Linked DNA regions of Homo sapiens. Changing the gene in region 1 together with any one later gene gives a genetic interaction. Each region holds a gene or a part of one and is shown in the gene's direction. Other genes may lie near its edges.

The links.
Region 2: of PRKN (region 1) and PINK1, changing one suppresses a phenotype caused by changing the other (phenotypic suppression), as found in Homo sapiens cells (one study listed by BioGRID).
Region 3: of PRKN (region 1) and GPR37, changing one suppresses a phenotype caused by changing the other (phenotypic suppression), as found in Homo sapiens cells (one study listed by BioGRID).

Annotation. Positions count from the first base shown.
Region 1 is NC_000006.12:162,255,655-162,259,384, reverse strand, and holds part of PRKN (E3 ubiquitin-protein ligase parkin), read left to right. Parts: intron 1-3,730. UniProt on the Homo sapiens protein: Functions within a multiprotein E3 ubiquitin ligase complex, catalyzing the covalent attachment of ubiquitin moieties onto substrate proteins. Substrates include SYT11 and VDAC1.
Region 2 is NC_000001.11:20,646,958-20,650,457, forward strand, and holds part of PINK1 (serine/threonine-protein kinase PINK1, mitochondrial precursor), read left to right. Parts: intron 1-1,357; exon of another isoform or gene 1,358-1,547; coding exon 1,548-1,675; exon of another isoform or gene 1,676-2,037; coding exon 2,038-2,274; exon of another isoform or gene 2,275-3,476; coding exon 3,477-3,500. UniProt on the Homo sapiens protein: Serine/threonine-protein kinase which acts as a sensor of mitochondrial damage and protects against mitochondrial dysfunction during cellular stress.
Region 3 is NC_000007.14:124,755,635-124,759,364, reverse strand, and holds part of GPR37 (prosaposin receptor GPR37 precursor), read left to right. Parts: intron 1-3,730.

The DNA of each region.
Region 1 (3,730 bases):
AAAATGTTGGTACTGACCATACTCTGAGAAACTCTGCCCTATGGCTAAGGTTTTCCAGCCTTACAATTATGGATCCTACCTGTTGTTCTCACGGAACAATCGGACGCTGGGTGGGAGAACAGAGGCAGGTCGGTGAGAGGTGAACACACCAAGCCAATCACAGCAGCCTGAGACCATTCCTCTTTACGTACTTCACATATTAAACACATAAAACATCTATCATTTGAAAAGATGAAAAAAATCCTTGGTTATACAATGTTTGAAAACCTGTGCCTCAGAAAAAGAGATTAAAAGAAATCCCAATTTTCTGTGCTTCCAGAGTCTTCAATTTTAACTTCGAAGAATATAAGTGCTGGCTGGACGTGGGAGGGCTCTAATGGGTGAATAGCTGGGCTGTAGCCTCATATGTTGTCGAAACAAATGGAAACTTCTGAAACCCGAGAAGGTGCCTTTCAAGTATTTTTAGTTGGCAAAAGATAAGTGGTCAACATGAGAGGTGATAACATGATGTACATGAAGAACCAGTTACACTGTTGGTACTAAGAACGCAAGCATGTCACACTAAAGACTTGTAAGAGGACGTCAAAGAACTGGAACGAGTCATTGAAGTAGTTTTTACAGCAGTGCCACTCAAGCTTTAGTGCTCATCAGAATCACCTGAGGACCTATAAAAGCACAGATGACTGGGCCCAGACCAGTTGGCCTTGGATGGAAGCTGAGAAGTTGCGTTTCCAGCAAGCTCCCAGGTGATGCTAACACCGCGGGCCCAGGGGCTGTGCTTTGAGTAGTACTGCCCGAAATAGTAAAAAATAGTATTCCTTAAAATATGGTCAGTGAATAAAATCTATTTTTACTACATTTTCAATAAGAACGTTGAGCTGCACCTGGGCTCCAGGGTGCCTGTGTGTAAATTACCTTCATGTGTTATTGGTGTTTCCTAAATGAGGCGCCATTCATCATCTCCTGACAGATGAGATGAAGCTATTGGACCTAGCAAAAAAATAGGAGGCTCCTCCAATATCCGTCATACAGTTAACGAACTACATAAACAAATAACGATTGAGTCCTTACTCTGTGCCAAGCACAGTGCCAGGTACTGGGATGTAGCAGAAAATAGAAACAGACAAGATGCCTACCTCAACGGAGCTATTCTATTTGGAGCAGCTAGTAAGTGTGTGTTCTATCGAGAAACAGCAGAGTCAAGGGGACAAAGAGTATTGGTGGGGAGTTCCGTAATATACAGCAGCCGCGAGGCCTGTGTGATGAGCTAAACTGTGAGGAGGGCACCCTCAGGGAGCATCCATTTGTGTGCCAAATGGCAGAGGCGACAGCAACTCGTGAGCCCCAGGCAGGCCCCCGCCCAGAAAACGCAGCAGCCAGTATGGGGTGGAGCTTGGAGCAGGTGGAGCTCGGAGAAGAGGATGTCAGAAAAAGGGCAGGGTGGAGAGGTCAGGTAGGGTCTGCTGGGCCCAGGATTTGACCCTGTTGAGAAAATTTGACTTTTGAACAATGGAGTGACATGATCTGACTTCAGGAAGCCTCATGCTGGCTGCTTGTGAAGGAACTGCAGGAGGAAAGGGTGGAGGCAACACAACCCGGAAGGTTTTCAAATCCTAGAACTGCTGCACTGCCCAGAACATCGCGAACGGGCCATACCTGCAGGCGGTGTCGGTGAGTGCTTGCCGCAAACCTGGCACTATAGAAACCCTGTTTCCCTGAAATACCTCTTTTAATTCCTTGCAGCCTTGTAAGGTAGACCATGTTCATATCCTCTTTATAGATGAGGAAACTGCAGAGACCACTTGAGGAACCGACCCAGACAATTCAAGCCGTACCCAGGGACCGTCTCACTTCAGAGCTTATGTAAAATATCCAGTAGCCTGTGTTTTCCTGAATATAGCTATCAGGTGAAAGGAAATTTTGCATTTCCTCTAGATGTTTTGGTTAGAAAGTAGATATAGTCTTAAAATGGACCTTTTTGAAGAGTCATGTTAATTGATTTCAGCCAAGTAGTCAGATTTTAAAACTATATCACAAGGTATACTACTTTTTCAGAATTTTTTGCTTTTGAGAAAAAAAAAAGAAAAACTGTGGCCACGCTGGCCAGTCTGGTCTGGAACTACTGACCTCAGGTAATCCACTGACCCCGGCCTCTTGAAGTGCTGGGATTACAGGTGTGAGCCACCACACCCAGCCCCATGTTTTTGCTTATATGCTTCCAAAAGGAGAGGAGACATGTCATGAAATAGAGCGGGAAGGAGTGTCAGCATGCAATTGACAAAAAGCTGCGGAGAGGAATACCATGCCGGGGCAGCACAGGCTGAGGCTGGCCCCGTCTACCTTGTGCTTTTGTTCGTGCCTGTTTGGGTTCATGCCTCTGTGGGAATTGTTTTGCTTTTTGTGGTTGGTTATCTGTTTTGAAACATAAAGAAATAAAAAGTAACTGTGGGGGAGAGTAGGTGAGAAATGACAGCATTGGTTGTTGAAGTTAAGTAAAGTACTTGTAGGGAGCCTCAAAATGTTTTGATTTTTCTGAAGTCACCTCTGCAAGGTCATATTGTGATTTCAAGGGGAAGGGAGACATTGCATTCAAGACTCCATGAGGCCTGGCTGGACAGTGTGCTCTTCTAACGACAGGCCTCTACAAATGGTAGTGTCTGGGTGTCCCTCTCCTGGAGGCCTACATGGCCAGTGAAGCAAATCATTTACATCTTTTACTCTTCAAACCCTGAAGTGTTTCAGAGGACACTGCCCATATGCCAAGATGGGGAGATCTGCACTTGACAGGAATGAGCGTGGAGGCAGGGTATTTACAGCTGGGGAGGTCCATCTTGGGAATCATCTGAGCATCGTAATTATTGCAGAGTCTGCCAAAAATGCAGGCAGGCTGCTGGATTCCACTTTCTTAAAGGGAAGATAAAGAAAAAATTTCAAATTAAGTGGTAGAATTTAACTGTCTGTAATACACTCTTTTCAATCTTTCTAAATTTGTTCTGAGTAAATAAGGACTAATGGAAATTTTGTGAAATTTTATAGAAGGTGTTATTTTGTATGACCTGTAGCTTCCAAACATTTCATACATAAATCAAGAATTTATGGTCTACTTATGTAAGAAAAACAGAATTAATAAAATATCTATTATATAATAGAAAATGAAACCCTTATGACAAGGAAAATATCACTACATTCTTTTTTAGAGTACTTTTTGATAATTTCACAGAATCAGGCCCAAACTCCTACACCTTCTTCATCTATTTGACTATAATTAATTTTCCAAATGATACCTCTGATGCTCTGTAAGATCTTACAATTCTTCCTCAATCCCCAAAGGTTGACTACCTTTGGTGTTAGAGGTGTGTTATTAGATTCTAATTCTTTGCAAATTAATGCTCAATCTTTTCTGTGCATGATAATTAAACTCACTAGAGTCCCAGTGCATCAGTGGGGTTGTGATTTGCTTCCTGTAAGAAGGGAATCAAATGGCCGATAATTTACTTCAGTGGATTAAATGAAAATCGTTTGAACCAGTGTTTACCACAGTTCCTGGTATATACTACGCACTGAATACAGAATTTTTGTTGCTAGAAAATGCAGTCAAAAAGGGTGACAGACATTGATTTTGAATCCTTGAGCGCATTCATGGTACCTGGGCTGTGATGTGTCTGCCATGCAAATGCTAAGCCGACTGGCAGTAAGTGTGGGCCCCGGAGCCAAGCAACTTAGCCCGTCT
Region 2 (3,500 bases), on another chromosome or scaffold:
CAACCTCTGCTTCCCAGGTTCAAGCAATTCTCGTGCCTCCGCCTCCTGAGTAGCTAGGATTACAGGCAGGTGCCACCACGCCTAGCTAATTTTTGATTTTTTTTTTTTTTTTTTTTTGAGACTGAGTCTCGCTCTGTCACCCAGGCTGGAGTGCAATGGCATGATCTCGGCTCACTGCAAGCTCTACCTCCCAGGTTCACACCATTCTCCTGCTTCAGCCTCCCGAGTAGCTGGGACTACAGGCGCCCACCACCACGCCCGGCTAATTTTTTTGTATTTTTAGTACAGACGGGGTTTCACCATGTTAGCCAGGATGGTCTCTATCTCCTGACTTCGTGATCCACCTGCTTCGGCCTCCCAAAGCGCTGGGATTATTATTTTTAGTGGAGATGGGGTTTCACTGTTGGCCAGGCTGGTCTCAAACTCCTGGCCTCAAGTGATCCACCCACCTCAGCCTCCAAAATGTTGGGATTACAGGTATGAGCCACCACGCCCAGCTGGGAGTTGGCTTTTTTTTTTTTTTTTTTTTTTGAGACGGAGTCTCACTCTGTCGCCCAGGCTGGAGTGCAGTGGCATGATCTTGGCTCACTGCAACCCCTGCCTATCGGGTTCAAGCAATTCTCCCGCCTCAGCCTCCTGAGTAGCTGGGATTACAGGCACACGCCACTACACCTGGCTGATTTTTGTATTTTTAGTAGAGACGGGGTTTCACCATGTTGGTCAGGCTGATCTGGAACTCCTGACTTCGTGATCCGCCTGCCTCGGCCTCCCAAAGTTCTGGGATTACAGGCGTGAGCCACTGCGCCCAGCCAGGAACTGGCTTTTTAAAGGAATTTTGTGTGGACCCTTTTACAAATAACCAATTCTTTTTTTATTTTTTCTGAGACAGAGTCTCGCTGTGTTGCTCAGGCTGAAGTGATTCTCCTGTCTCAGCCTCCTTCACCTCCCAGGTTCAAGTAATTCTCCTGTCTCAGCCTCCCGAGTAGCTGGGATACAGGCACACACCACCATGCCTGGCTAGTTTTTTTGTATTTTTAGTAGAGACAGGGGTTTCACCATGTTGGCCAGGCTGGTCTTGAACTCCTGACCTCAGGTGATCTACCCGCCTCGGCCTCCCAAAATGTTGGCATTACAGGCCACCACACCCGGCAATAACTGATTCTTAATGCACCTGGTTCTTAGGTTTGGATTTGGGGTTTCAAATTCAAATCAAAGTCTCCTGGGGTATAAGGGCCCTTGGAGATCATTTGAACCAAGCTCTAGCTCCTTTGGTCTTGGGGACAGCTCCAATTACTAGAACATGATTTAAATTGAGCCACACAGTCCTTTGCCTGGGGATTTTGCAGCCTGTACTTACTGGAGGCATTTCCGTGTTCGCACAGCAGGCCCTTCTGATCAGCTCTCAGGCCTTGCTGACCTCCTGGGCCAACACTGAGCCATTAGCCCCTGTCAGCTATGTCTTGCTGGTGGCTTTAGTAGGGACATAGGAGGGCCTCTCAGAGGGAAGGAGGGGAGGAGAAATGGTCACTTTGCTTGCTCCTTCCCAGACGGCTGCCCCTGGCTGGTGATCGCAGATTTTGGCTGCTGCCTGGCTGATGAGAGCATCGGCCTGCAGTTGCCCTTCAGCAGCTGGTACGTGGATCGGGGCGGAAACGGCTGTCTGATGGCCCCAGAGGTGAGTCCCGAGTGTGTCATGCGCCATCGGCAGCCCTTCCCCCACATGTCCACTGAATGCAGGAGACTCGATGCCTTGTGATAACCCAACACCTCCATCTTTTCTGACCCATAATTTGGCACAAGTTCCTTCCCTGCCACTTTGCTTTCCTCCGGCGTTCCCTCATGTTCCAGGAGAATGCAAGTCCTGTCACATAAACCAGGTGGTCTAAGCAGACCCCTTCTGGGTCTGAGCCACAGCTCACTCAAGCTCTGGGTTCCTTGGGACAGAGTTCAGATTAGCCCATGGATCAGGTGATGTGCAGGACATGAAAAGGTTAGATGGGCGGGCAGCGTGATGTCTCACCCACTGCTTCTGAGCAGGTGTCCACGGCCCGTCCTGGCCCCAGGGCAGTGATTGACTACAGCAAGGCTGATGCCTGGGCAGTGGGAGCCATCGCCTATGAAATCTTCGGGCTTGTCAATCCCTTCTACGGCCAGGGCAAGGCCCACCTTGAAAGCCGCAGCTACCAAGAGGCTCAGCTACCTGCACTGCCCGAGTCAGTGCCTCCAGACGTGAGACAGTTGGTGAGGGCACTGCTCCAGCGAGAGGCCAGCAAGGTGAGGCTGTCCCCGGCTTCGAGGGGACGGTGTGGGTAGAAACCTCTGTTCTCGTTCCAGAGTGAAGGTCAGGTTTGGGCCAGAGCCACAGTGACAGATCCTCTGTGTTAGGAAGGTAAAGGCTAGTTACAAGAGAACAAAAAACAGATTTTAATGTAGGTAGGAGTAGGAGCACTAGCCACCACAGCATAGTCAGAATCCTAGCAGTTCAACTCCTGTGGCTTTTTTAGTTGCTGAAAAAGTTGTTCAGAGGCCAGACACGGTGGCTTACACCTATAATCACAGCACTTTGGGAGGCTGAGGCGGGTGGATCACTTGGGACCAGGAGTTCCAGTCCAGCCTGGCCAACATGGTAAAACCCCGTCTGTACTAAAAATACAAAAATTAGCTGAGTGTCGTGGCACACGCCTGTAATTCCAGGTACTCGGGAGGCTGAAGCAGGAGAATCGTTTGAACCCTGGAGGCAGAGGTTGCAGTGAGCCAAGATCGCGCCACTGCACTCTGGCCTAGGTGACAGTGCAAGTCTTTGTCTCAAAAAAAAAAAAAAAAAAAAAAGGCTATTCAGAGAGAGAAAAGGAGGCATTTTTGAGAAATGTTTAATGGAGATGTAGCTCATGGAAGCAGCTGAGAACTGATCAGAGAGAGATGGAAAACATCTCCTGAGAGCAGATCTGGACATTGTGAAATTAATATAAAGGAATGCAAAGGCAGACCTATCCGAAGCCATAATTGGAGTGGCAGCTGGCTCAGGGGCAGGCTTAGTGCAAAGAGCTGAGCCATACCTGCACCCCAGCACTGTTCTGCCACTCCGTTAACTGCTCTCTGTACGTGGCCTGCTATCTTGGTGCGCAGTGAAGGTTAGAACAACAGCTGCAACCAGTTATGAAATGATAGAGGAGACTACTTACCTGGTTCAAGGGACCAGATAGCTGTGCACAAGAGGCACTAGGCTTTCCACCCAGGGGGAAAGGCTATTTCAACAATGCATGCTGCCCCATGCAGAGGTGTACACATGGAAAAGCTTGGAGCACGGGCAGGGGACAGGCAGTATTTGTCACCTGAGTGAAGGGCATCAGTAGGAGATAGGGTAGAGGAAGAATTGGGTTGGGACCAGAGAAGGGAAGACCCTCACTAACAAAGCAGGCTTTGGGTTGAGACTGTGTTAACAGATGTTCTAGCTACAGCTTCCCTTCCTGTTGCAGAGACCATCTGCCCGAGTAGCCGCA
Region 3 (3,730 bases), on another chromosome or scaffold:
CCAGGTGTGGTGGCACACCCCTGTAATCTCAGCACTTTGGGAGGCCTATGCAGGCAGATTGCTTAAGCCCAGGAGTTCAAGATCAGCCTGGCCAACAGGGCGAAACTCCATCTTTACAAAAAATACAAAAATTAACGGGATGTGGTGGTGCATGCCTGTAGTCCCAACCATTCAGGAGGCTGGGGTAGGAGGATTTCTGGAGCCTTGGAGGTTGAAGCTGCAGTGATCCATGATCATGCCACTGCATTCCAGCCTAGGTGACAGAGTGGGACCCTGTCTCAAAAAAAAAAAAAAAAAATTCAAATAATTCAGACATCAAATATGGCAACTGGAATGAATCTTTGCTCATTATTTAATGGAAGTCAGAATCAAGGTATCATCTGACCGAGATCCCAGATAACAGATTAAGGTCTGTTTGGACATTAATTGGAGGTTTTGAATGATCGAGATTCTCTTTAGTTTAAAGAACCCACACCTTCATGGAGTGTTGTAGAACAGAAGGCTTCAAATAATTATAATGAGATAACCCCAGATCTAACTGTATTTTTATTTTACTGGGATAAAACTCCTGCACAGAGGTGGAGAGAGAATAAAGGGAACATGTCTTACCATGGCCTCTGGTCTGGGAATAATTTGTGACAAGTCTAGAATCTTTTCTAATGAGAGGAACCAGCTTCTCCAATGACTTTAGCAATACTGGTTTTAAGTTGAGTGGAACAAATGGCTCTTTCATTGCCTTAGATTGTAGCTAGCACTGACAAGAAAGAAAGGGTTTTTGGAGGTTGAAGATGACAGTGCCATACAACTATCTGAGTCTACACAGATTTCCCTAGAACGCCTGTATTCAAGTAATAGAACATTTATCATGGCATATGGTAAATTTTCTTTGAGAGGTGGATTAGTCATTAGGTATTCTGCCGGACTTTTAAGTGGAAACTTACTGTTTTATGAGCAATTTTAAAGTTACTAATAGTATTCTTAGGGAAAATGTGCTCAATATATGAGAATGGTGCTGAACAAATATTTTATGACTTCCCATTAATCTTTTAGTAATCATTTTATATATTCCCATGCAAATGAAAATATTTAGCTGATGACTCTAACAGGAAGAAAAGTGTTTCTTAGAGTGCACTTTTATTTATAACTCCATTTCTGAATGGTGTATGGTGAAGTTAACTGAATTTGGATCTTCCACAAGAAAGAAAAGTTTTATAATATTCAAATAAGAAATCCAAATAGTTTCCTTTTCCATTGATCATAATGAGAATGTGTCCTTTTCTAAAGCTTGTCAATGAAGTATAAATAGGAAAATTGATTTTTTAACTTCCCTTCTATAGATATTGTCTGGCATTCAGCTTTTAAGGATTATATATAAAACAGCAGCACCCAATAACTGATTAAAGAACAATTTGAATAATTTATTATTTTCTGTAATCCTTTTCCATAGGTGTCATCATTCGTTCATTTGTTCACCATTCATTGATTTATCAAATGTTTACCTGGCTTTTCTTCTATGCGAGGTACTATTAGGAGTGGGCAGGAGAAGGCAATACAGGAAGAGGGGGAAAAGTTTCCAAAGATGAATATCATAGATGAGCCACTGCCATTAAAATTACAGAAAAGTAAAGTAATGTTCTACACCATGATGAATATTATAATAGAGGTTTGAACAAAGCATCGTGGAAGCTCAGAAATGGCACTGAAATGGGTCAAGTCACAGTTGTGCTTGTTATGACCAGAGATGGAGAAATTAAAGGGAAAACTGTGCTCCCTCTAATTCTTTTCAGTTACATTCTTACTATTAATCTTCATAAATTTCATAAATGCCTATACAGCCTAGATCCATGATGAAAAGTTACAAATGTGAAAATCTTTTAATTCTTGCTTTTTTGTTTCCTTTAGCTTTCCCAGGATAGAAAGTCCATAATAATAATTGGCAAAATAATTCAGCAAATAGTTCAGTTCTAGAAATTTCTTTTAAAATATGGAATTTGTGCCAGTGCCTAGGATATCTATCTCTGCTTTACAATTAGTCCTTATTAGCTATAAGGACACTAAATACGTCAAAATTAAACATTTTATTTAAATGAATGGCTTATTTGGCAATGTAATAACAGTATATTAAATTGAGTCCTTTTCTTCTGAAAAAATCAAAACATATACAAATTGTTTAACTTGACCTTGGAGAACCTAAGAAAGAAGATGGACAAGGGCGATACTTTAGACTCCATTGTGGAGTCGAGGAAAGGGGAGCACGATGAATGGACTTTCTCAAGAATTGGATTAATCTCTCAAGCACATAATCAGAGTGAAGATTTATTCTGAGCTCCTGAGGGCTCCCAAGGTATCCTGCCATGTCAGCAAAGTATCCTTCCACAGAGACAAGGAGGCAAATGTGTCTGCAGAAGTAAAACAGATATGAGCTTATAAGTTTACCGAAGGCTGAGTGGGTGAGGGTCTACCTTTGCTTTCATATTTAGGCTGCATGGACCTTGATACAATTTTTACACCTTTAATGGCATTCGTCTTATGTGCGGCAACCTTTTAACAGTATCCCATTGGAAGCACATGGACCTGTGTCTGGGATGTAGATTGTGGGAGAGGGATGGGAAGGCAGCTATGCAGTGCAGTTTGTCTCTGCCTCTGCACTTCTGCTCCATCCTCCAGGGATGCGCCTGTCATTTCACTTCCCATGAATTGACCTGCCAAGGTCCAATAATGAACTCAACCTTGTTGCCAAGACTAACTCTTAAATATCCTAATTGGAATAATACTCTTTGTGCCAGAAGAGATGATCTCATCCAAAATTTCAGAGTGGAGTTGAGAATGGGATTACTGCAACGTCAAATATGGAGGGTCTTTTTTTATTTGCAGAGTAAGTGTAGGTACTTTTCATAAACTTCCATAAAACGCAGGATATGATCACTGTGTCAGTCTTGTTCTTGAGACAGAATACTTTCCATTTGTGAATTTGTAATAGTTTTCAGTGTTATCTGTCTGTACACTTGAATAGTTCATAGCATTCATTAATGAGGCCAAGGTCATTGATTTGATCCCTGCCTAGAATGAGACATTCTTATTAGGTCTGTGACTCTATTCAGGGATGTTACTTTTTTCTTTTTTTCTGTCAAAATAGCCCCTTCCTCATCAATTCCCATCTTCAGGGCCTATCTTTACTATTGTCTTCCTAATTCAAATCCTTTTTATATCGGAAAAGCATCTGATAAGCCAATTCGCATCAAGATATGCAATTTAGAAATAACTGCCTTTTATAAGAAGATTGAATCAAGAAAGAAATTTCCTTAACAGACTACCAATAGTGAAATTTTGGTTAAAAGCAGATAAATTCTGTCCTAAAATATGGTTTCTCAATTTTATTAAAATCATGATGACCTAACTATACATAATTTTGTTTTTAGTTTGAGTTCACAGTCATGCAAATCAATATCATTAGTCAGAAAGGGAAATAGGTAAAAATGTGTTACTGCTTTTTGGAAACTCATCAGAACCCCAAGGTAAGGAACTGAAATTCCAGGTCACTTTAAGATTGACTAGGAACATCATAATAATACCAAAGATTGAGAACTGGACTGTGGGCTTGGGGGAAATATTACATTTTGAAATGATTTTGTAATTACTGAGAATAAACATGGAATCTTTAGAATCTAACATAGATGGTTTATATCTTAAGACAAAATGTTGCTAATCTTGCTTCATTTACATTTTTATT